Linked DNA regions of Homo sapiens. The protein of the gene in region 2 purifies or fractionates together with the protein of the main gene of each other region. This does not show direct contact. Each region holds a gene or a part of one and is shown on either strand. Other genes may lie near its edges. The genes, in order: IVD and NUDT13.

What was found.
Region 1: the proteins of NUDT13 (region 2) and IVD purify together in Homo sapiens (affinity purification with mass spectrometry; 2 studies listed by BioGRID and IntAct, with this or other methods). This does not show direct contact.

Annotation. Positions count from the first base shown.
Region 1 is NC_000015.10:40,396,841-40,409,337, reverse strand, and holds the start of IVD (isovaleryl-CoA dehydrogenase, mitochondrial isoform 1 precursor), read right to left. Parts: upstream 3,544-12,497; 5' UTR 3,520-3,543; coding exon of another isoform or gene 3,511-3,519; coding exon 3,367-3,510; exon of another isoform or gene 3,084-3,366; coding exon of another isoform or gene 2,988-3,083; intron 1,703-2,987; coding exon 1,613-1,702; coding exon of another isoform or gene 1,526-1,612; intron 1,400-1,525; coding exon 1,348-1,399; intron 1-1,347.
Region 2 is NC_000010.11:73,103,801-73,115,702, forward strand, and holds the start of NUDT13 (NAD(P)H pyrophosphatase NUDT13, mitochondrial), read left to right. Parts: upstream 1-6,654; 5' UTR 6,655-6,767; intron 6,768-10,556; 5' UTR 10,557-10,565; coding exon 10,566-10,648; intron 10,649-11,902. UniProt on the Homo sapiens protein: NAD(P)H pyrophosphatase that hydrolyzes NADH into NMNH and AMP, and NADPH into NMNH and 2',5'-ADP. Has a marked preference for the reduced pyridine nucleotides.

The DNA.
Region 1 (12,497 bases), on a different chromosome or scaffold from region 2:
CCTTGAACTCCTGGGCTCAAGCGATCCTCCTGCCTTGGCCTCCCGAGTCACTCGGATTATAGGAGCCCACTACCACACCTGGCCATTTTCATCTGATTTCTAACTGCCTCTTTCTTCCGTAAAATACAATCTGATTCAGAAGCATATTGTCTGCAGGGAGTGGGGTACATAAACCCCCAAAACACAGTAGGAGAGTCTTGCTTAGGAGTACCCAGCAGCCTTTCCCCTAATGCTTTTACATTAAGATGGTTTCAATTAATCTTCAAGTGGTTTCATTTTATGAAAGGTGATATAACTTTCTAGGATGTAAGGAGAAGTATATTGGGTTCCACTCATACTCTCATGCCCAGAGTGAATACAGGCCCAAGCAGGCTGGGCTTTTTTTTTTGAAACGGAGTTTCGCTCCGTTGCCCAGGCTGGAGTGCAGTGGCACAATCTCAGCTCACTGCAACCTCCGCCTCCCAGGTTCAAGCAATTCTCCTGCCTCAGCCTCCCGAGTAGCTGGGATTACAGGGATGTACCACCATGACCAGCTAATTTTGTATTTTTAGTAGAGACAGAGTTTCTCCATGTTGGTCAGGCTGGTCTCGAACTCACGACCGCAGGTGATCCACCTGCCTCGGCCTCCCAAAGTGCTGGGATTACAGGTGTGAGCAACCACGCCTGGCCTAGGCTCATCTCTTTACCGGGCACTGCAAGCCAGTCTGGGCCTCTTTCAGACGTTAATATCATCCAAACCAGAGCCTGCTAGCTCCCTGCCTTCTCCCTCCGGACAGCCTATTAAACACATCATCTGGCCACCTCACCTGGAAGCCCAGATAGACATCTCTCTCCCCTGCCCAGCCCCTACCCTACTCCCCCCGCTATCTGCTCCCAAATGAGCTCCAAGGTTTAAGCAGAAGAGGACACAGGCAGTCCCTGCAGGGACACACCTGCCCAGAGTGTTCCTGCCGAGAGGCCACTGGTAGGACAAAGCTTATAGGGATTAGGGGAGGCAGTAAGACTGAGGTACTATGAAGACAACCACTTGATCCAGAGTTTTCTAAACTTCCCAAATCACCTGGGTGAGCCTATTAAGTATGCAGAGTTCAAGAGTTGGACTGATCCTGATCCAAGTGAGCCACAATGACCTAATTAATCCCTCTGCCTTCTCTACATCACTGTCTAATAAAATAGAAGAGTGTCCTGTTCTCTGGGCTGACAATCAATGGGTGCTTTCACAGGTCCAAAAGATGCAGTTCTGGGTTTCTTTAAGCACAATCTTTCCCTTCCCTTCCTGCTTCTTTTGGGAACTGTCTTAAAGGGCACATAAGAAAAGTTCTTTTTAGGGAAAGACACTATACTCACCAGGGGCTGTGATGCCCAATACGCCCAGGTTCCCCAGCTGCTTCCAAAATTCCTGCCAACAGAATGGAGCAGAGTGGAATAAGTGTTGAGGGGAAGGCAGCCAGTCACATGTGGCTGGAACAATGAGACCCAAACACTTCAGAGAGAGGGGCTGCATTCTTAGAGAGGCTTCATTTACCAGAAAACTGTGTGAGCTCTTCCAGGCAGCAGTGCAGCTCAGCCCCACTCCCTGACTGCCCCCGACTGCCCGGACCTCCCAACTCACTCGCAGGTTCTTGAACTCATTGCTGCGATCGATCTCCTGGGCCTTGGGGGCCAGGTGCTCCTGAAGGAACTTAGCCATGGTCTGACGAAGCTAATAGGAGAGAGGTAAACAGATGCCACTGCAGACAGCATCTCCACTACCCAGACACATTCAAGAGAAAAGGCCACAAGTAACTTCCCCAAACAGCATCAGACTGAAACTGAGAGGCCTCAGTAGTTTATGCCTCCTCAGAGATGATCTTCACCCCTCTTTCTTAAGGTCTTCAGCCTAGACAGCTTGATGGTAATTTTTAAAACGTCACACTTTACATAAAAATCATTCCATTGGTTTCCACTGTACTTAGAATAAAACACAAGCTTCTCACCCAGGCCTACTAGGCCCTGCAGGAGCTGACCCCAGCTGACTCTCCTAGCTTCCCCAGCACCTTCCCACCTCCCACCCTCTGTGCTCCAGCTGCATTCCAGGCAGCTGCCAGATCTCAATAGTTGTCAGGCTCTTTTAAGCCCCCGAACCTTTGGCTAAAAGGGTCTGATTACCCAAAGAGATTAGAAACGCCTCTTGGCGGCTGGGCATGGTGGCTCATGCCTGTAATCCCAGCACTTTGGGAGGCCGAGGCAGGAGGATCACCTGAGGTTGGGAGTTTGAGACCAGCCTGACCAACATGGAGAAACTCCGTCTCTACTAAAAACACAAAATTAGCCGGGCGTGGTGGTGCATGCCTGTAATCCCAGCTACCTGGGAGGCTGAGGCAGGAGAATCACTTGAACCCGGGAGGCGGACGTTGTGGTGAGCGGAGATCGCGCCATTACACTCCAGCCTGGGCAACAAGAGTGAAACTCCGTCTCAAAAAAAAAAAAAAAAGAAAAAAGAAAAGAAACTCCTCTTGCCAGGAAAGCTTGAGAATAGGGATTGAACCCTTTCCACTTGAGGTGGTTCACGGAAGCTCTGAGCGCTCGCTGGCTATAAACATAAACTACGGAGTTGCTGGGAGGCTCATACCTCCGCCAACTCCATCCAGCCTCCAAGTGAAACCTCAGGAAGGACTCTGGTTCTGCTCCATTTGTAAATACTACTTCGTCTTCTTTTCTATTTTTTATGAGATGGGGGTCTGGCTATGTTGCTTAGGCTGATCTCAAACCCCTGAGCTCAAACAATCCTCCCACCTCGGCCTCCCAAAGTGCTAGGATTACAGGTGTGAGCCACGGCGCCTGGCCTCCAACTACTTCTTTCAAGTACTTGTTCAACTTTTGTGTTTTGACCCAATGGGCTGAAGAGCGACAGGAGAGCTCACTGTGGCTTTTTAAAACCCCCAAACTGTTTATACAAAAAAGACTCCCTGGTGATTACGATGACCACCCAGGTGTGAGAAGCATACCTCAGCCTGTTCAGGTGTAAGTGAACTACATACAGATTGAGGGCCCTTGTGCCACAAGCGGTAGGTAGCCTGGCCAATCCTCCACCAAAACACCATCAGTCTCTCAGGAGCTCTCCCAGCCTCGACTCCTCCTCTCTACTTCCAGCAGTACTGTCCCACGGTCTCAAATCTTCACTCCACAGACGTGAGGCCGAGGTCAGAGGACTGGACCCGAGGTCGGAGGCCCCGCGTCCCGCCCCCGCGCTGGCGCTCCCAACGGCCCACGGGCAAAAGCCAAGGCTGGGTGGGCGCTGGGCCGATGGGGACCAGGCAGGAAGGAGGCCTTGGGGACCAGGCAGGAAGGAGGCCTTGGGGCCAGGAAGGGGGTCAGTCTCCTCACCTGCCTCTGCTCCTCGCTTAGCCCATTGATTGCATCGTCCACGGGCAAAAGCGAGTGGGCCCGCTGGGAAACGAAGCCGGCAAGCGGCGGCCGCAGCCTCCAGCTCGCCACACGCCACCCCAGCAGCCGAGTCGCAGTCGCCATCTCTGCCATGCACGAAGAGCCAGCGCTGAAACTGAGCCAGCTCTTAGCTCCACCAATCCAGGCTTCGCCGCCCACCAAACCGGCTAGGGGGTGGGCTGCAGCAGCCAATCACCCTAGGCGGCCCGCCGAAGGCGTTGCTGCCCTTGGACCGCACCCGAGCCAATCAACCGTGATCGCCTGCCAGCTTCCAGCCAGTGCAACGGCCGCAGGCCGAGTGGCCCTGCCCCGAACGCTGCAAATGCTGGCGTGCTCCCTAGGATGAGTGTTTTTAGCGGGGTAGAAGAGCAAGTGTTTTTTTCTTTTTATCTCCCTGCGTTGAAATAGCAGCCCCTAACTGCGGAAATCTCTCTGTGGGAAAGCAGAGTGTGGAAACAGCAATCAGAAAACTGCCCACGTACCCAGTAAATTGGTCAAGCATCTCTGGAATAATTAAGATCGGAAAAGTAGTGCTTGCTCTAACGTGCACACTGATCATAACAGAGTACATCTTGCTTTATTATATAACAAGGTTTGTAGATTTAGATTCATGTTTTATGGGAAAGGGGTTATTAAGGAGTAGCTGCCTTCTAGATTGGAGATGCGCCTCGATTTACAGTGGGGTTACTTCTCGATAAACCCATCATAAATGGAAAATATTGTAAGTCAAAAATGCACTTTGAAAATACACTTAGGCCGGGCATGATGGCTCACACCTGTAATCCCAGCACTTTGGGAGGCCGAGGCGGGTGAGTCACCTGAGGCGGAGAGTTTTAGACCAGCCTGGCCAACATGGAGAAATCCTGTCTCTACTACAAATACAAAAATTAGCTGGGCGTGGTGGTGCATGCCTGTAATCCCAGCTACTCAGGAGGTTGAGGCAGGAGAATCGCTTGAACCCGGGAGGTGGAGGTTGCGGTGAGCTGAGATCACGCCATTGCACTCCAGCCTGGGCAACAAGAGTGACACTCCGTCTCAAAACAGAAAACAAAAAAACACCTAACCTACCAAACATCATAGCTTAGACTAGTGGACCTTAAACGTACTTGGAACACTTATAATAGCTTATAACGGCACAATCATGTAACACAAAGCATATTTTATAAGACAGTGTTAGATATCATTTATTGAATATTGTACAGTTTCTATTCAATGTCTATCACTTTCACACCATCATAAAGTTGAAAAATCTTAAGTTGAACTATTGTAAGTTGGGGACCATTTGTATTTAATATGTGTTAAATATTAAATAGTACATATTTACGTATTATACTATATATTAAATAAGATGTATTAAATAGGCTGGGCATGGTTGCTCATGCCTGTAATCCTAGGACTTTGGGAGCTTAGGTGGGAAGATCGCTCGAGGCCAGGAGTCCAAGACCATCCTGTGCAACATAGGGAGACCCTGTCTCCACAAAAAATTTGAGAAAACAAACAACAACAAAAGATGTATTAAATAGTAAATAGTATGTATTTAATACACCAGAATAATAGCAGTCAGGACTTAGAAACACGGGTTCGGGACACAGGGAAAGGAAGAGTGGTGAGGGGAAAGAGGGGAGCTGATGGAATTAAGTCTCTATCCCCTCTCCACTTGCTCTATTTTCCTCCTCCATGTTGTGTCAATGTTATTTTTAAAATTTAATTAATTAATTAGAGATGGGGCCGGGGTGGGGGTGGGCAGTCTCACTATGTTGCCCAAGCTGATCTTGAACTCCTGGGCTCATGTGATCCTCCTGTCTTGGCCTCCCAAAGTGCTAGGATTACAGGCATGAGCCACGGAACCCAGCCAAGTCAATGCTCTTGAACAACTCATCTCAGGTTGGTACCCTGAGTCCAGGAGTCTATGCAATCCCACTACATAGCTGTGGGACTTTCGGCAAGTTTCTTAGATCTTTTCAGTCACTGTTTCATCATCTTTAAAACGAAAATGATACCAACCAACTTTAAGGCTACTATGAGGAATAAAAGAGATTGCATACTTAATGATTCAGCACAGTACTTGGCACATTGCTCTCATTTTTAGATCATTCATACCACATCCAACTTCCCTGCACCCATTCCTCAGCTTCTAACTCACCCCCTCACCATAATTTGAAGTACTACTGAGAAGTTAACACCCGATCATAGCACTGCTTTTTTGTTGTTGTTGTTGTTTAAGACGGAGTCTCACTCTGTCGCCCAGGCTGGAGTGCAGTGGCGCCATCTCGGCTCACTGCCAGCTCCGCCTCCCGGGTTCACACCATTCTCCTGCATCAGTCTCCCGAGTAGTTGGGACTACAGGCGCCTGCCACCACGCCTGGCTAATTTTTTGTACTTTTAGTAGAGACGGGGTTTCACCGTGTTAGCCAGGATGATCTTGATCTCCTGACCTCGTGATCCGCCCACTTTGGCCTCCCAAAGTGCTGGGATTACAGGCGTGAGCCACCGCGCCCGGCCGCTTTTTTTTTTTTTTAAATCAGGTTGAAATTAAATTTTTTTTTTTTTTTTTTTGAGACAGGATCTCTGTCACCTAGGCTGGAGCACAGTGGCACAATCATGGCTTACTGCCATGACTGGACTCAAGCAATCCTCTGGCCTCAGCCTGCCAAGTAGATGGGACTACAGGCACATGCCACCGGCCTAATATATACATCTATACACATATACATACATATATATATATATGTATGTATATTGTAGAGATGAGGGTCTCACTATGTTACCCAGGCTGGTCTCAAATTCCTGGCCTCAAGCAATCCTCCTGCCTTGGCCTCCCAAACTGCTTGGATTACAGGCATGAGCCACTGTACCAGCCCACCTTTATTAGTTTCTTAAATATTCCACAGTTTTATGTAAATACAAGCAATTATGAATATATATTCTTCTTACACTTAACAATGTATCTTGGAGATCTTGGCATATCACTATGTTAAGAGCGTCCTCTTTTTTCTTTTTTTAAAGACTATTCCATTGTATAGATACAACTTAGTTTTTCTTCTTATGAATGAGGTGGAGGATTTTTTCATACCGAAAGCCCTTATTTTTCTGTGGACTGTCAGATCATGTCCTTTGCCTATTTATGTGTTGCACTGTTGGCACTTTTCTTAACTCAAACCTACAATAAATGTGTAGGTTCACTGGAAAAGAATCAGGTCTGAGAGGAAAGACTTTGAGCTTGTTTTGGGCACAATTATGTTTGAAGCGCTTTTGAGTCATCTTAAGAGGTAATGTGGGCCAGGCATGGTGGCTCACGCCTGTAATTCCAACATTCTGGGAGGCTGAGGCAGTAGGATCACTTGAGGTGAGGAGTTCGAGACCAGCCTGAGCAACACAATAAGACCAGTCTCTACAAAAAATTTTAAAAATTAGCCAGCGGTGGTGGGTTGTGCTTGTAGTCTCAGCTTCTTGAGAGACTGAGACAGGAGGATGGTTTGAACCCAGGAGTTTGAGGTCACAGTGTGTAATGATCAGGCCACTGTACTCCAGTCTAGGCAACGGAACAAAACCCTGTCTCTAAAAAAATTAAAAACAAAAAATAAAAAGATTAACAAAATTAAGCTGGGTGCTGTGGTACATACCTGTAATCCCAGCTACTCAGGTGGCCGATGCAGGAGGATTGCTTGAGCCCAGGGGTTGGAGTCTAGTCTGGGCAACATAGAAAGACCCTATCTCCTAAAATAAAAAGAAGATTTTAAAAATTGATAAACCGCTAGCAAGACTTATCAAGAAAAAAAGAGAAATTGCAAATGTCTGATATCAAGAATTAAAAAGGGGACAGCTCTCAAATCCTACAGATATGAAAAAGATAAGGATATTTTGAGCAATTTATGCTAATACATTTGATAATGTAGATGAAATAGACAAATCAAACTGACACAAACTGACATAACAGAAAATCTGAATAGTCCTATATCTACTAAATAAATTGAAATCCACAATGAAAAACTTTCCATGAAGAAAACTCCAAGCGTAAATGACTTCACTAATGAATTCTTCCAAATACTTAAGTAAGAAATATGGGTATAGGCCGGGCGCGGTGGCTCACGCCTGTAATCCCAGCACTTTGGGAGGCCGAGGCGGGCGGATTACGAGGTCAGGAGTTCAAGACCAGCCTGGCCAACATAGTGAAACCCCATCTCTACTAAAAATACAAAAAATTAGCCGGGCATGGTGGCGGGAGACTATAGTCCCAGCTACACGGGAGGCTGAGGCAGTAGAATCGCTTGAACCCGGGAGGCAGAGGTTGCAGTGAGTGGAGATCACGCCACATCACTCCAGCCTGGGCGACAGAGCAAGACTCCGTCTCAAACCAAAAAAAAAAAAAAAGAAAAAGAAAAAAAAATATGGGTATAAACCTAAGAGAGAATAAACAAGAAATAATACCCGGTGGCTCAGCCTGTAATCCCATCACTTTGGGAGGCCGAGGTGGGCGGATCACAAGGTCAGGAGATCAAGACCATCCTGTGAATGGTGAAACCCCGTCTCTACTAAAAATACAAAAAAAAAAAAAAAAAAAAAAAGTAGCCGGGCGTGGTGGCGGGCGCCTGTGGTCCCAGCTACTGGGAGGCTGAGGCGGGAGAATGCCGTGAACCCGGGAGGCAGAGCTTGCAGTGAGCCGAGATTGCGCCACTGCACTCCAGCCTGGGCAACAGAGCGAGACTCCGTCTCGGAAAAAAAAAAAAAAAAAAAAAAAGGAAATAATACCAAACTTATTATTTCAACTCATTTTATGAGGCCAATATAATCCTGATACCAAAAATCTTACAAGAAACATTACAAAAGAAGGCCGGGCACGGTGGCTCATGCCTGTAATCCCAGCACTTTGGGAGGCCAAGCTGGGCGGATCACGAGGTCAGGAGATCGAGACCATCCTGGCTAACACGACGAAACCCCGTCTCTACTAAAAATACAAAAAATTAGTCGGGCGTGGTGGCGGGCACCTGTAGTCCCAGCTACTTGGGAAGCTGAGGCAGGAGAATGGCGTGAACCCGGGAGGCGGAGCTTGCAGTGAGCCGAGATTGCACCACTGCACTCCAGCCTGGGCGACAGAGCAAGACTCCGATTTCATATGATACAAAAGATTAGAGGTAGATAATAAACCTTAATATGAAAGGTGAACAATAAAGCTTTGAGCAACAAAGTAAGGTAAAAATCGAACAAATGAAAGTATAAAGTAAAAACATAAAATACTGCATGTTCTCTCCTATAAATGGGAGTTGAGTACATTGAGTACACACAGACACAAAGAAGGCAACAGCAGACACTGGGGCCTACTTGAGGGTGGAGGGTGGGTGGAGGGTGAGGATCAGAAAACTACCTATCGGGTTCCATGCTCGTCACCTGGGTGACAGGCAGTTTACCTATGTAACGAACCTGCACATGCACCCCTGAACATAAAAGTTGAAAAAACAAAGTAAAAACTTGTTCATACAGGCCAGGTGTGGTATATAATTACATCCATAATTCCAGCACTTTGGAAGGCCAAGGTGGGCAGATCACCTAAGGTCAGGAGTTTGAGACCAGCCTGGTCAACTTGATGAGACCTCATTTTTGCAAACATACAAAAATTAGCCAGGCAAGGTAGTGTGCACCTGTAGTCCCAGCTACTCAGGAGGCTGAGGCAGGAGAATCGTTTGAAACTGGGAGGCGAAGTGGCAGTGAACCAAGATCGCAACACTGTACTCCAGCCTGGGCCACAGAGCAAGACTGTCTTAAAAAAAAAAAAAAAAAAAAAAAAAAAGAACAGAAAAAAACAAACATGTTTATATTGTTATAAATAAATGGGAGGGAGAAGGCAGAAATCCTCCTTACAGAAGAATTCCAAACAATATAGACAGGTAGATAGTTCTTACTCCCCTTGAGAGTGGCTGGAATTAGTGATGACTTCTAAAGAGAGTATGGAAGGAGTATAACAGTAACTTTACAGTGGAGAAACCCGGCTAACACTGCCTTAACCAAGTGATCAAAGTTAATATCACTAGCAACAAGTCAAGTTGATGTTATATACCTGTAATATCGTGTGCAAAGCTGGTTCCTTCTGGTGGGTTCTTGGTGTCGCTGACTTTAAAAATGAAGCTGTGGACCTTCGTGGTATTACAGCTCTTAAAGGTGGCATGGAACCAAAGAGTGAGCAGCAGCAAGATTTATTCTGAAGAGCAAAGGAACAGCTTCCACAACCTGGATGGGGAGCCGAGCTGCTAGACACCGCTGGCTGGGGTTGGGGGGTGGTGGCGGGGCTGGGGGGCAGCTTTTATTCCCTTATTTGTCCCCGCCCAGATCCTGCTGATTGGTCCATTTTACAGAGCACTGATTGGCCCATTTTACAAGGTGCTGATTGGCGCATTTTACAAACCTCTAGCTAGCTACAGAGCACTGATTGGTGCATTTTAAAATCCTCTTGTAAGACAGAAAAGTTCTCCAAGTCCCCACCCGACCCAGAAGTCCAGCTGGCTTCACCTCTCAATATGATGCGTTGAGTACACTTTACATATGTGGTATTCTTCCCTAAAACACATAACCACAGTCTAATCATCAAAAAAAAAAAAAAAAAAAAGAAAGAAAAATCAGACAAATCCAAATTGAGGGATATTCTACAAAATATCTGACCGCTACTCCTTGAAACTGTCAAGGTCATGAAAAACAGAAACAGATTGAGAAACTGTCATTGACCAGGGGAGACTAAGGAGACATAATAACTAATGACAAAATACAATATGGCATCCTGAACGAGATCCTAAAACAGAAAAACTACATTAGTAGACAGACCAATGAAATCCAAATAAAGCCCAGGGTTTAGTTAATAATGATCTACTGATGCTGGTTTCTTAGTTTTGACAAATGTGCCATGGTATTGTGAGATGTTAACATTAGGGGAAGCTGGGGAAGGGGTATATGGGAATTCTCTGGACTATCTTTGCAACTTTTCCATAAATCTAAAATTATCCCCAAATATATAAATTATTACTATCTTTTGAGACACGGTGTCACTCTGTAGCCTAGGCTGGAGTGCAGTTGAGATAGATCAGGTAGGTTGGTCACAGCCTCACTTAAAGGGGAAGAAGATACTTGCCAAACAGACAGATGGAGAGCACAGCTCAACGCTGCACAAACCGCATCAGGAACTCGTGGTCAGAACATCCTGCTGCAAGGAGGAAAAAGAGTAAAAGGGGAAAAAACCTCGAGCTTGCACAGGGACAGAAACCCTTGGTCAGTGTCTTTAGGTTGACCTATACTCATTTAACAGTAAAAACACACCCCAGGATGGAGAATTACAATGCTAATGAGACATGCAATGTATATACTGGCATGTATAGCAATAGTGTGTGCTCATCCAGAAGACCTTCCACAACATGCTTAACAGCAACACTCATTCCCACCCTTTAATGAATAATTATATAAGCTTCTCATAAAGGTAATTTCCCCAGTGTAGGATGGGGCTGTCTCATTCTCAAGTAGCCCTCTCTGGCCCAGCTATCAAGAGTGTACTTTCACTTTGCAATAAACTACTTTGCCTACTTTTACTTTGGATTTGCTCTCAAATTCTTTTGCTCACCAAAGTCAAGAACCTGAACCGGCCCACCAACAACACAGTGGAGCTTTCACAGCTCACTGCAGCCTCGTTCTCCCTGGTTCAAGCAATCCCCTCACCTAAGCCTCCAGAGTAGCTGGGACTACAGGTGTGCACCATCGCGTCTGGCTATTTAAAAAAATTTTTGGTAGAGAAGAGGTCTTGCTATGCTGCCCAGGCTGGTCTTGAACTCCTGAACTCAAGTACTCCTCCCGCCCCAGTCTTCCAAAGTGCTGGGATTACAAGCATGAGCCACTGTGTCTGGCCAAAATATATATTTCAAAAAAGACTGACTAAACCTCCAGCTCTCATACATTGTTGTGGTGGTATAAACAGGTACATTTATTTTGGAAAACTGAGTTGCTTACCCTCCGACTCAGCAGTTCTATTCTTGGGTATCTATCCAAGAGAAACCAGTGCACTTTTATTAATAGCCTAAACATAGAAACAAATGTCCACTAGCCAGAGAATACTGATACATTCAACGATACAAATTATAGAGACATGTTGAGCTAAAGAAACCAAACACAAGAGTACATTCTCGGCTGGGTGCAGTGGCTCAAACCTGTAATCCTGGCACTCTGGGAGGCCAGGAGTTCAAGATCAGCCTGGGCAACATAGTGAGAGCCCCCAGCTCTACCAAAAATTTAAAAATTAGCGAGGGGTGGTAGCATTCATCTGTAGTACTAGCTATTCAGTTGGCTGAGCCCAGAAATTCGAGGTTACAGTGAGCTATTATTGTGTATTATTGTGCCTCTGAACTCCGGCCTGGGCAACAGAGCAAGATGCTGTCTTTTTTTTTTTTTTTTTTTTTTTTTTGAGTCAGGAGTATCACCATGTTGCCCAGGCTGGTCAAGAACTTCTGGCCTAAAGCTATACTCTGGCCTTGGTCCGTCTCTTAAAAAAAAAAAAAGGGGAGCTGGGCTTGGTGGCTCAAGCCTGTAATCCCAGCACCTTGGGAGGCCGAGGCAGGCGGATCGTATGAGCTGAGGTGTTGGAGAACAGCTTGGGCAACATGGCAAGACCTCATCTCTACAAAAAATACAAAAATTAGCTGGGTGTGGTTGTGTGTGCCTGTAGTCCCAGTTACTTGGGGGGCTGAGGCAGGAGGATCACTTGAGCCCAGGAGGTCCAGGCTGCAGTGAGCCAAGATGGCACCACTGCACTCCAGCCTGGATGACAGAAACCCTCTCTCTCTCTCAAAAAAAGTATATACTATGAGTCCATTTATATGAAATTCTTGAAAGGACAATACTAATGGATGTGATTTTGTAGAGTAGTGCTCACTTCCACAGCAGCAACAGTAACTTATGAACCTGTACACTTAAGGTTAGTGCACTTTAAGCCTCAAATTAAAAAAAAAAAACAAACTGGTTAAAGTTTGCCATTTCAACTATTTTATTTATTTATTTATTTATTTATTTATTTATTTATTTAGAGATGGAGTCTTGCTCTTGTC
Region 2 (11,902 bases):
ACGGAAATTGGTAGAAAGTATAACTTCTTATTTGGAAGAAACAGTAGTAGAATCAGTGAACCCAGATTCTAGTCCACCATTAACGGTATCTGAGTGAATTATTTTAACTTTTATGCAAAAGTTTCTTCATTCACCAAATGGCCATAATAATATTTGCCCTACCATCCACAGAAAGACATTATAAAAGTCAATTGATGTTATTTTGAAATTTCTTCGAAAAGTATGAAGTACTAGATTAATATGAGTAATCATTATTGGATGCTGTATGATATGCAATTGTGTGGTATTTTATTTTGTTGTTGTTTGTTAATCATAGAGCCAAAGCTGATAAGTTTTAGACCTGTTTCAATGACTTTGAGAAAATTATGAAATGAAAAAATAATTATAACTAATCTTAATGCAGACAAAAAGTAAAGAAGAGGGATATATACTTGTGGTATCTATAATTAGTCTAAGGTTAATGTTAGTTCTTAAGTCAATCCAGAAGTGAAACATCACTGCTTCATATCCTATATAATTTAAGGAATACTTTGTTGTTGTTGTTGAGACAGAGTCTCCCTTTGTCACACAGGCTGGAGTGCAGTGGCACCATCTTGGTTCACTACAACCTCTGCCTCCCAGGTTCAAGCGATTTTCCTTGTAATTTTAGTAGAGATAGTTTCACCATGTTGGCCAGGCTGCTCTCAAACTCCTGACCTCAAATGATCCACCTGCCTAGGCCTCCCAGAATGCTGGGATTATAGGCATGAGCTACCGAGCCTGGCCAATTTGAGGAATACTTTTAATGGAACTACTGTGGCAGATTGGTTGCATTAATAGATCCAATTCTTCTCCACTTTCTGTATTCATGTCTGTGTAGTAAAAAATAAACCTTGCCCCAACAGGTATATAAAAATATGCTCAACATCATTATCATCAGAGAAATGCACATCAAAACTACGAGATATCAACTCACCCCAGTTAAAATAGCTTTTATCCAAAATGCAGTCAATAATGAATGCTGGCGAAGATATGGAGAAAGGAGAATTCTCATACACCGTTGGTAGGAATGTAAATTAGTACAGCCACTATGGAGAACAGGATGAAGGTTCCCCAAAAAACTAAAAATAGGACTATCATCTTAATATAATCCAGCAATCCTACTGCTGGGTATTAACCCAAAAGAAAACAAATCAGTACATCAAAGAGATATCTGGCCAGGCATGGTGGCTCATGCCTGTAATCCTAGCACTTTGGGAGGCCGAGGCTGGTGGATCACTTGAGGGCAGGAGTTTGAGACCAGCCTGGGCAACATGGCGAAACCCTGTCTCTACTAAAAATACAAAAATTGGCAGGGCGCGGTGGCTCACGCCTGTAATCCCAGCACTTTGGGAGGCCGAGGCGGGTGGATCACGAGGTCAAGAGATCGAGACTATCCTGGCTAACATGGTGAAACACCGTCTATACTAAAAATACAAAAAATTAGCCGGGCGCGGTGGCAGGCGCCTGTAGTCCCAGCTACTCGCTACTCGGGAGGCTGAGGCAGGAGAATGGCGTGAACCCGGGAGGCGGAGCTTGCAGTGAGCTGAGATCGCGCCACTGCTCTCCAGCCTGGGCGACAGAGCGAGACTCCGTCTCAGAAAAAAAAAAAAAATTAGCCGGGTTTGGTGGCGGGTGCCTGTGTTCCCAGCTCCTGGGGAGGCTGAGGCTGGATCACTTGAGCCTGGGAGGTTGAGGCTGCAGTAAGCCGTGACTGCGCCATTGCACTCCAGCCTGGGCGACAGAGGGAGACTTTGTCTTTTTTTGTTTGTTTGTTTGAGACAGAGTCTCCCTCTATCGCCCAGGATGGAGTGCAAGTGGCGCGATCTCGGCTCACTGATACCTCTGCTTCCCGGGTCCCAGTTCAAGCAATTCTTCCTCAGCCTCCGGAGTAGCTGGGATTACAGGCACGCGCCACCATACCTAGCTAATTTTTGTATTTTTAGTAGAGACAGGGTTTCTCCATATTGGCCAGGCTGGTCTTGAACTCCTGACCTCGTGATCCACCCGCCTCGACCTCCCAAAGTGCTAGGATTACGGTCGTGAGCCACCGCGCCCGGCCAAGATCCTGTCTTAAAAAAAAAAAAATCCCACAAAAAACAAAATCCTGTTTCCATGAGCAGTTACTCCTCATTATCTTTGAACACTATCCTCATCCCCATCCCTAGGCACTTTTTGTCTTACAGATTTGCCTATTCTGAATATTTCACATAAGTGCAATCACAACCCTAGGTATATTTCATATAAATTGCCCCCATTCCTAGGCAGCCACTAATCTGCTTTCTGTCTCTATAGATTTGCCTGTTATGAACATTTCGTAGGAATACAATATGTACTCTTTTGTGACTGGATTATTTCACTTAGCATAATGTTTTCAAGCTTTATCCATATTGTAGTATATATAATTCCTCTTTGTTGCCAGAAATATGTCATTGCATGGTTGGATATGCCACATTTTGCTTCTCCATTTATCAGTTGATAGTCACTTGGGTTGTTTGTACTTTTTTTGAATATTGTGAATAATGCTTCACAAAAATTAATTTACAAGTTTTTGTGGACATTTGTTTTCAATTCTCTTGGGAATATAAATCCAGGAGTTAAATTGCTGGGTCATTTGGTAACTCTATATTTAACTTTACGAGGAACCACCAAACTGTTTTCAAAAGCGGCAGCACCATTTACAATTTTACCAGCTGTGTATGAGGATTCCAATTCCACCACATCCTCACCACTCCTTGTCATTATCTGCATTTTGATTGTAGCTATCCTATTGGGTATAAAATGATATCTCATTATGATTTTGATTTGCATTTCCCATGCAAATCTTTTCATGTGCTTATGGGTCATTTTTCTATCTTCCTTGAAGACGTATCTATTCAGATTCTTTGCTCATTTTAAAATTTGGTTGTTTATCTTTTTATTACTGTGTTATTTAAGTGTTCTTTATATATTCCAGATAGAAGTCCCTTATCAGATACATGTCTTGCAATAATTTTTCCCAATTCTGTGAGTTATCTTTCTATATTCTTCATGATATTGTTTGTAGCACAAAAGTTCTTAAAATTTTGATGTCTTATTTTTTCCTTTGTTGCTTATGCAAAAAAAGCCAGATGAGATTTTAATAGAAATTGCATTGAATCTGTAGATCAATTTGGGGAATATGCCATTTTAACCAAATTAGGCCTTCCAATTTATGAACATGGGATTCTTTCAATCCTTCCAATATTTTCCAATATTTATGTTCAACTTCTCTACCTCACACCCAGTCAGAGATACAATCCAGGTCTATAGTATGGTGGTCAAAAGTACAGATTCTTTCTTAAGACAGATTTAGTTTAATATCCCAACACTTCTACTGATTAGCTGTGTAAATATGGACAAATTACTTTTCTTTTTTTTTTTTTTGAGATGGAGTTTCACTCTGTTGCCCAGGCTGGAATGTAGTCGCTCAATCTTGGCTCACTGCAACCTCCACCTCCTGGGTTCAAGCGATTCTCTTGTCTCAGCCTCCCGAGTAGCTGGGGCTACAAGAGCACGCCACCACACTTGGCTCATTTTTGTATTTTTAGTAGAGACGGGGTTTCACGATATTGGCCAGGCTGGTCTCAAACTCCTGACCTTGTGATCCACCCGCCTTGGCCTCCCAAAGTGCTGGGATTACAGGTGTGAGCCACCGCGCCTCCCCTACTTAATTTTTCTAAGCCTATGTTTTCTCATCTGTAACGTGCAATTTTTTTTTTTTTAGACAGGGTGTCTCTGTCACCAAGCTGGATGGAGTGCAGCATCATGATCTCGGCTCACTCCTGGGCTCAAGCAGTCCTCCTATCTCAGCCTCCTGAGTAGCTGGGACCGCAGGTGCATGCCACCATGCCCAGCTAATTTTCGTATTTTTTGTAGAGATGGTGTTTTGTCATGTTGCTCAGGCTGGTTTCTTGAACTCCTGAACTCAAGCAATCTTCCCACCTCAGTCCCCAAAGTGCTGGGATTACAGGCGTGTGCCACCACACGTAGCCTAAAGTACAAATTTTAATACAGATTTCATAGGATGTGAGGATTAATGACAAATATGTGGGACACTTAGCATAGTGCCTGGAACACAGCAAATGCTCAGTCTGAGCTATTTTTATTATTATAGCACTTAACAATTACTACAAAAAGTTATTTTGACTTTTTAAATTATTAGAGCCCCAATTTCCCCCTAAGCATCCTTAGAATCCATTGACTTTATATCTTGTTTCCCTACAATTTTCTGTGTCTTCCTTAAGGATAATGAACCAATCTGATTTTTTTTTTTTTTTTTTCAGACAATGTCTCGCTCTGTCACCCAGGCTGGAGTGCAGTGGCGCAATCTCAGCTCACTGCAACCTCTGCCTCTCGGGTTCAAGCGATTCTTGTGCCTTAGCCTCCCAAGTAGCTGGGACTACAGGTATGTGACACCAGACCTGGCTTAATTTTGTATTTTTAGTAGGGTTTCACCATGTTGGCCAGGCTGGTCTAAAACTCCTGACCTCAAATGATGTGCCCACCTCGGGCTCCCAAAGTGCTGGGATTACAGGCATGAGCCACCATGCCCGGCCTACTCTGATCTCATCTCTGATCACCATGCTCTTTCCTAGCCTTTCCTCAAACGGCACACTCCCACCCCAGGGCCTTTGCATATGCTTATTTTGCTCTGTCTACAAATCTCTTTCCATAGATATAAATTTGGTTTCTTCATCACCTTCTTCAGGGTCTTTGTTTAAATATTATCTTAACAATGAGGCTGACCATCCTATATAAAATAGCAAAATAATCCCTCTACTTATCTTGCTTTATTTTTCTTCTTAAGCTTTATAACCACGACACATTGTATATTTACTCGTTTGTTTCCCCTTCTAGAATGTAAGTTACATGAGGACAGAGATTTTCATGTTTTGTTCCCTGCTGTATCCTATCCCTATAACAGTCCTAGGCACATTGGGTACTCATTAAATACATGTTGAATGAGTGGACTTCTTCTCTTGGCTGGGTGCGGTGGCTCACGCCTGTAATCCCAGCACTTTGGAAGGCTGAGGCGAGTGGATCACTTGAGGTCAGAAGTTTAAGACAGCCTGGTCAACATGGCGAAACCCTGGCTTTACTAAAAATACAAAAATTAGCCAGGCATGGTGGTGTGCACCTGTTATCCCAGCTGCTCGGGAGGCTGAAGCAGGAGAATCACTTGACTCCGGAGGAGGAGGTTTCAGTAAGCCAAGATTGTACGTACCACTGCTCTCCAACCTGAGCGACAGAGCAACTCCATCTCAAAAAAAAAAAAAGTGTCTTCTCTCATAGGCAAGTAACTTCAGTAGTAAAACGAGAAGAGAGCAGCACCAAAGTAGCTCTGCTGAGAGGTGAAGCCAGCTGGACTTCCTGGGTGGAGTGGGGACTTGGTGAACTTTTCTGTCTAGTTAGAGAATTGTAAATGCACCAATCAGCACACTGTAAAAATGCACCAATCAGCACTCTGTGTCCAGCTAAAGGATTGTAAACACACCAATCAGCACTCTGTAAAAATGCACCAATCAGCGCTCTGTGTCTAGGTAAAGGATTGTAAACGCACCAATCAGCACTCTGTTTCCAGCTAAAGGATTGTAAACACACCAATCAGCACTCTGTAAAAATGCACCAATCAGTGCTCTGTGTCTAGCTAAAGGATTGTAAACACACCAATCAGCACTCTGTGTCTAGCTAAAGGATTGTAAATGCACCAATCAGCACTGTGTCTAGCTAAAGGATTGTAAACGCACCAATCAGCACTCTGTAAAAACGCACCAATCAGCACTCTGTGTCTAGCTAAAGGATTGTAAATGCACAAATCAGCACTCTGTCAAATGGACCAATCAGCACTCCATAAAATGGACCAATCAGTGCTCTGTAAAATGGACCATTCAGCAGGATGTGGGCAGGGACAAATAAGGGAATAAAAGCTGGCACCCCCAACAGCAGCGGCAACCTACTCGGGTCCCCTTCCACGCTGTGGAAGCTTTGTTCTCTCGCTCTTCACAATAAATCTTGCTGCTGCTCACTCTTTGGGTTCGTGCCACCTTTAAGAGCTATAACACTCACCGAAAGCTCCACGGCTTCATTCTTGAAGTCAGCAAGACCAAGAACCCACTGGAAGGAACCAACTCCGGACACACTTCTAGGAGACTACTTCCAGTCAAATGGAATGCGCTTCCTCTGATCAAGAAATGAATCCTACCATAAGTTCAAACATATCTATACATACCTATACAGAGTCCCATCCTTTTAAATTGGAAGAACTTCATGAAATTTTAGAGCTAGTTCTAAAGTGTGCAGAGAGAGAACTAGAGATATACTAAGGTTAAAAGGTATTTGATTCCCACCCCTGCTTCATCCTCTCCCCAGCCTCATAATATATGCCTTCTGTGTATGAGGGTGGACTTAATGACTTTATCTTTTTTTAATTAAAAAATGGATCTAATACTAACCTACTTTCTCCAAGGATACAGTAGTTCTCTTGGTAATAAGATCTTAGATGTTCATGCTTTTGACAATCATGGTTAACTTGCAGCTGGAGAACACAGCAGCATGCCTGGGAACTGAACTACAATTCCCAGAGTGCATCTCTAGGAGGATTCTGGGAAGTGTGGCAGAAGCAGCAATGGTCCCTCCAGGGAACGGAAGCCGTTGAACGTGAACATTTGGAGTTTCCTCTTTTGTGCTGATTCCTGAGGACTAGGAAGGTGCCCCGAAAAGAATTCAGAGTGAGTACAGTGAAACAGAAACCTGCTCAGCTTCTAAGTGCAGGAAGGACTTCACAGGGAGGCATGATCAGAACTTGAAAAAAGGTCGTGGTCACAGCATTTTAACATTTTAGCTTAATCTCTTCCTTTTTGCAGAAACCAGGGATATAACCATAGTTTTGCCTCATAACTGTGGAGCTACATCAGTAACCACAGCTCATCATTTTCTGATACTTTTTTGGAGAGTCATTTAAAAATGGAACTTGCCAACCTCTCACATTGTGCCTTAATTTTTATTTTTTTTTAAAGGAGGGAAAATTATTTTTTAGAAAGCAAACTATAAAGCAGGTCAGTGAGACCTTCAAAGCTGTATTCCCGTGGTTCCTCAGTTTTCCATATTTCCCTGTCCCATGGAGGTCCACAGTCGTGGAGAAACGGACTCTAAACACAGGCGAAGTATCACTTGGTCGCCCAGGCTGGAGTGCAGTGACACGATCTCCACTCACTGCAAGCTCCGCCTCCTGGGTTCATGCCATTCTCCTGCCTCATACTCCCTAGTAGCTGGGACTACAGGCGCCCGCCACCACGCCCAGCCACTTTTTTTTGTATTTTTAACAGAGACGGGGTTTCACCGTGTTAGCCAGGATGGTCTCGATCTCCTGACCTCGTGATCCGCCCACCTCGGCCTCCCAAAGTGCTGGGATTACAGACGTGAGCCACCGCGCCCGGCCTAAAAAAAGGTCTCTTAAATACTAGGGAACCTGGCCTCTTCACGGTGGAAGTAACCACTAGATTCAAGATGGGCTTTTTTTGTTTTGTCTTGTTTTGTTTTGTTTTTTTGTTTTGAGACGGAGTCTCGCTCTGTCGCCCAGGCTGGAGTGCAGTGGCGCGATCTCGGCTCACTACAAGATGGGCTTTTTTGTCACGCTGTAGTACTTTATAATCTTTCTTCTGGAAAGATGAACAGGATAAGAAACGTGTGAATCATTTGTGTTGGGGAGTTCAAAGAAACTCTTAATGTTAAAGCACCTTGCCTCATCATTTAGTAGTTGGGTAAGACTGCTATTACCTTTCATCTCTATCAAACATTGTACTTTTAAAAACATAAATAGCTCTGTGACCATCAGCTCATGAGTCAGCAGCCATGATAATCTACAACTGGCTAAGGTTAATTTAGTAGCAGAAACTAGGCAAAACATCAGGCAGCAGTTCCCAAGGTCCAAGAAACTCACCAAATGAATTCCCTTTGGCTCATGGAATATGGTGAGGTGTTTTGGGGAACAGTGGCATGGAGGTAGCCTCATTAACCAGTTAGTCTCAGGAACTACTATTTTATTAGGCTTTTCTTTTGTCTTAAAAGGAATAAGTACACATGGCTAATTTTTTTTTCAGTACAGAAAAATGAACAAAATAAAAATTACAGGCACCTTTTTCAATATTTGTCTTCATCCCACTCCCCCAAATTAGTCACTCTTTAATAGTTTGGTATGTATACTTCTAGTCATTTGAAAAATATAAATAAGGCCGGGGGCAGTGGCTCTTGCCTGTAATCCCAGCACTTTGGGAGACCCAGGCAGGCAGATCACCTGAGAACAGGAGTTCGAGACCAGCCTGACCAACATGGAGAAACCCCATCTCTACTAAAAAAAATACAAAATTAGCTAGGCGTGGTGGCGTATGCCTGTAATCCCAACTACTCGAGAGGCTGAGGCAGGAGAATCGCTTGAACCCGGGAGGTGGAGGTTGCGGTGAGCCGAGATTGCGCCATTGCACTCCAGCCCGGGCAACAAGAGCGAAACTCCGTCTCAAAAAAAAATAGAAAGAAAAATATAATTAAATACATATAATTTATGTATATTGGTATGTCTGTGTCCTTTTTTTTATAAATAATTAGGTCATGTTAACCAACTGTTACCTGTTTTTTTCTCCAGCTTTATTAAGGTATAATATTAAGGTATTAAAGTATAATATATACTTTTTGACAAAAAAAGTATATATTTATAGTTTACAATGTGATGTTTTGATACAGGTATACATTGTGAAATGATTAAATCTAGCAAATTAATATATTCATCACCTCACATTTTTTGTGTGTGTTGAGAATATTTAATATCTACTTTCTTAGTAATTTCCAAGTATATAATATATTATGAACTATAGTTACCATACAACACAATAGATATCCAGAATTTATTCATCCTAACTGAAACTTTGTACACTTTGACTAGTATCACCTCCAATTCCTCCTTGCTTTTTTTGTTTACTTAATAATGTGTTCTAAGTCTCTCTCCCTGTTACTATATATATATATTTTTTTCACTGTTATATTATTTTCTATTTGTTCTTTTTCTTTTTTTTAAGACGACGTTTTGCTCTTGTTGCCCAGGCTGGAGTGCAATGGCACGATCTCTGCTCACTGCAACCTCTGCCTCCTAGGTTCAAGCGATTCTCCTGCCTCAGCCTCCCAAGTAGGCAGGATTACAAGCGTGTGCCACCACGCCCAGCTAATTTTGTATTTTTAGTAGAGATGGGGTTTCTCCATGTTGGTGAGGCTGGTCTCGAACTCCTGACCTCGGGTGATCCGCCCGCCTCGGCCTCCCAAAGTGCTGGGATTACAGGCGTGAGCCACCGCACCCAGCCCTTCTATTTGTTCTTAAGTCGCGTATTAATCCATTTTATCATAATTTTCAGTTAACGTTCTTGTACATATCCTTTCCTTCCTAGGGTAAATTCCTAAACATGGAATTGCTGAGGAAAAAGAGAGGCTTATTATTTGACACTTTAATAGATATTTCCAAATCAACCTGTAAAAATATCATACCAGTTTACATTCTGAGTGGTGTATGAGCCAGAAATAATGACTTTAAATACATTTTTTATAGTATATCACACTAGTTTTGGGGTTATTAAAGTAGGAATAATACTTTTAATAATCTCCTAGAGTGCTTTGCAACCCACATATTGCATACTGCCTTCTGTGAAAGCTGGCTATATATTTGTTTTCTCTCTCCTGCTAGAGTTCCTTGAGGGCAGGGATTTTCATCTTTTACATTTTTGTGTTCTTTAAGGGACCCTGAATAAAGTCAGTACTCAATAAATACTTTGTTGAATGTCATTTGCTAAATATATTTTACCCATGGCTAGGACATAGATTGTAGCCAAAACTGTCCAAGAATTCATCATCAGTGATTCATAATTATGCAACCAAGAAGTAGGACTAAATTTTAGATGTTCCTCGGTCATTTAGTGTCAAAGCTGGCTTTCCTCAGACACAGTGAAAAGGGTGGTTGGTTATTTAACTGTAATGAATTCTTGACTTTTTTTACTGCCAATGTGAGAGGTACTTTTCATGGGGAATAAAATACTGATATACAATTTAAAGGGACCATCTTGGCCAGAATGGATTATTTAGTTACAGATTTTTTTTCTTTCCCAATGAGCAACAAAAAAATAGAAAATATCTTGGATCCATGTGAATTTGCATAGCTGCCTTCTGAAAAAATTTCCTAATGTTGTGACTTTATATATTCTTATCTACAGGATTCCTTCTACTTCATTCTTACTCTAAGTGGGTAGAACAGGTTTCAGTTTTCTAGATCATGAAAGAAGTACTGAAATGTTGAGATCCCATAGCTACTTAGGGGTAGAAATGCAATTTAGAAACAAGATCACCTGACTCCTATTGAGTTTGTCTTTCCTTAATATTACAGAGTGATCCCATTCTGGCTTAAAGTATAACCCTCTTGGCAATTCATTACTTTAAATTTCATATTATGACTTTTTTTAAAACTCCTTTTTTTTTTTTTTAAGGACCTGACAATGTCCCTGTATTGTGGAATAGCTTGCAGGAGAAAATTTTTTTGGTGCTATAGGCTGCTGTCAACCTATGTTACTAAGACACGGTGAGTTTTAGCCAACCTGAGCTTTGATTATTCTGTTTGGCCCATTAAACTATTGTGATATTATGATTTTATATATATATTTAGGTTTATGATTATTATATATACATTATATATTACTATATTTGTGTGTGTGTATATGTGTGTGTGTGTATATATATATATTCATATATATATATATTCATCCATGGTTTCTGGCTCATAACTCCTATGGCCCTTATTACAGTCTTTTGTTATAATGTGGGGCACTTTAGACCTCAGGGGCAGGCCTCAGGAAACAAAATCTCTTTTACCTTCTCCTGTCCTCCTTTTACCTGCCCATGGCAGGACTCTAATCTGATTGCGGGTCCAAAGACCCTCATTCCAGAGAGGGTTGTGCCCCATACTCCGGAGGAAGGAAGGCTGCACAGAGAGGCCAAGGAGAACCTGAACAGACAGGCATTGCTGGGTTTCCGGTCAGTCTATTATTATGAAATCATAACCATTTTGTCCAATCAGATTTCTACATGGTTGTCAATCATGCCTATGTAATGAAGCCACCATAAAAACCCAAAAGGACAGGGTTCAGAGAGCCTCTGGATAGCTGAACACATGGAAGTTCCTGGAGGGTGGTGCACCCAGGGAGTCATGGAAGCTCTGCACCCTCCCCCCACATACCTGACCTAAATGCATCTCTTCATTTGTATCCTTCGTAATATCCTATATAATAAACCAGTAAACATCAAAAAATATATATTTTTACTTTTTTAGAGATGGAGTCTCACTCTGTCACTCAGGCTGAAGTGCAGTGGTACAATCTTGGCTCACTGAAGCCTTGATCTCCTGGGGTCAAGCGATCCTCCCACCTCAAACCCCCAAGTAGCTGGGACTACAGGCATATGCCACCATGCCTGGCTAATTTTTATATTTTTGTGTAGAGACAGGGTTTTGCCATGTTGTCCATGCTGGTCTGAACTGAGCTCTGGCAATCCACCTGCCTTGACCTCCCAAAGTGTTGGGATTACAGGCGTAAGTCACCAAACCTGGCCGAAAAATTTTAAACAAACTAAATATCCAATAATATCTAAAATATCTCACACACTTGAATATAAGTTCTATTAAGATCAGACTTTGTCTTTCCACTGTGGTACCCCTACTTCATAAAACAGTGCCTGGCACATGGTAGGCACTAAAGTACTGTTGAATGAATGAACAGTAAGGGAGAAATTAAGTAAATTAAGGTACTATAATAGAATAATAAACATGTTAAAATTATAT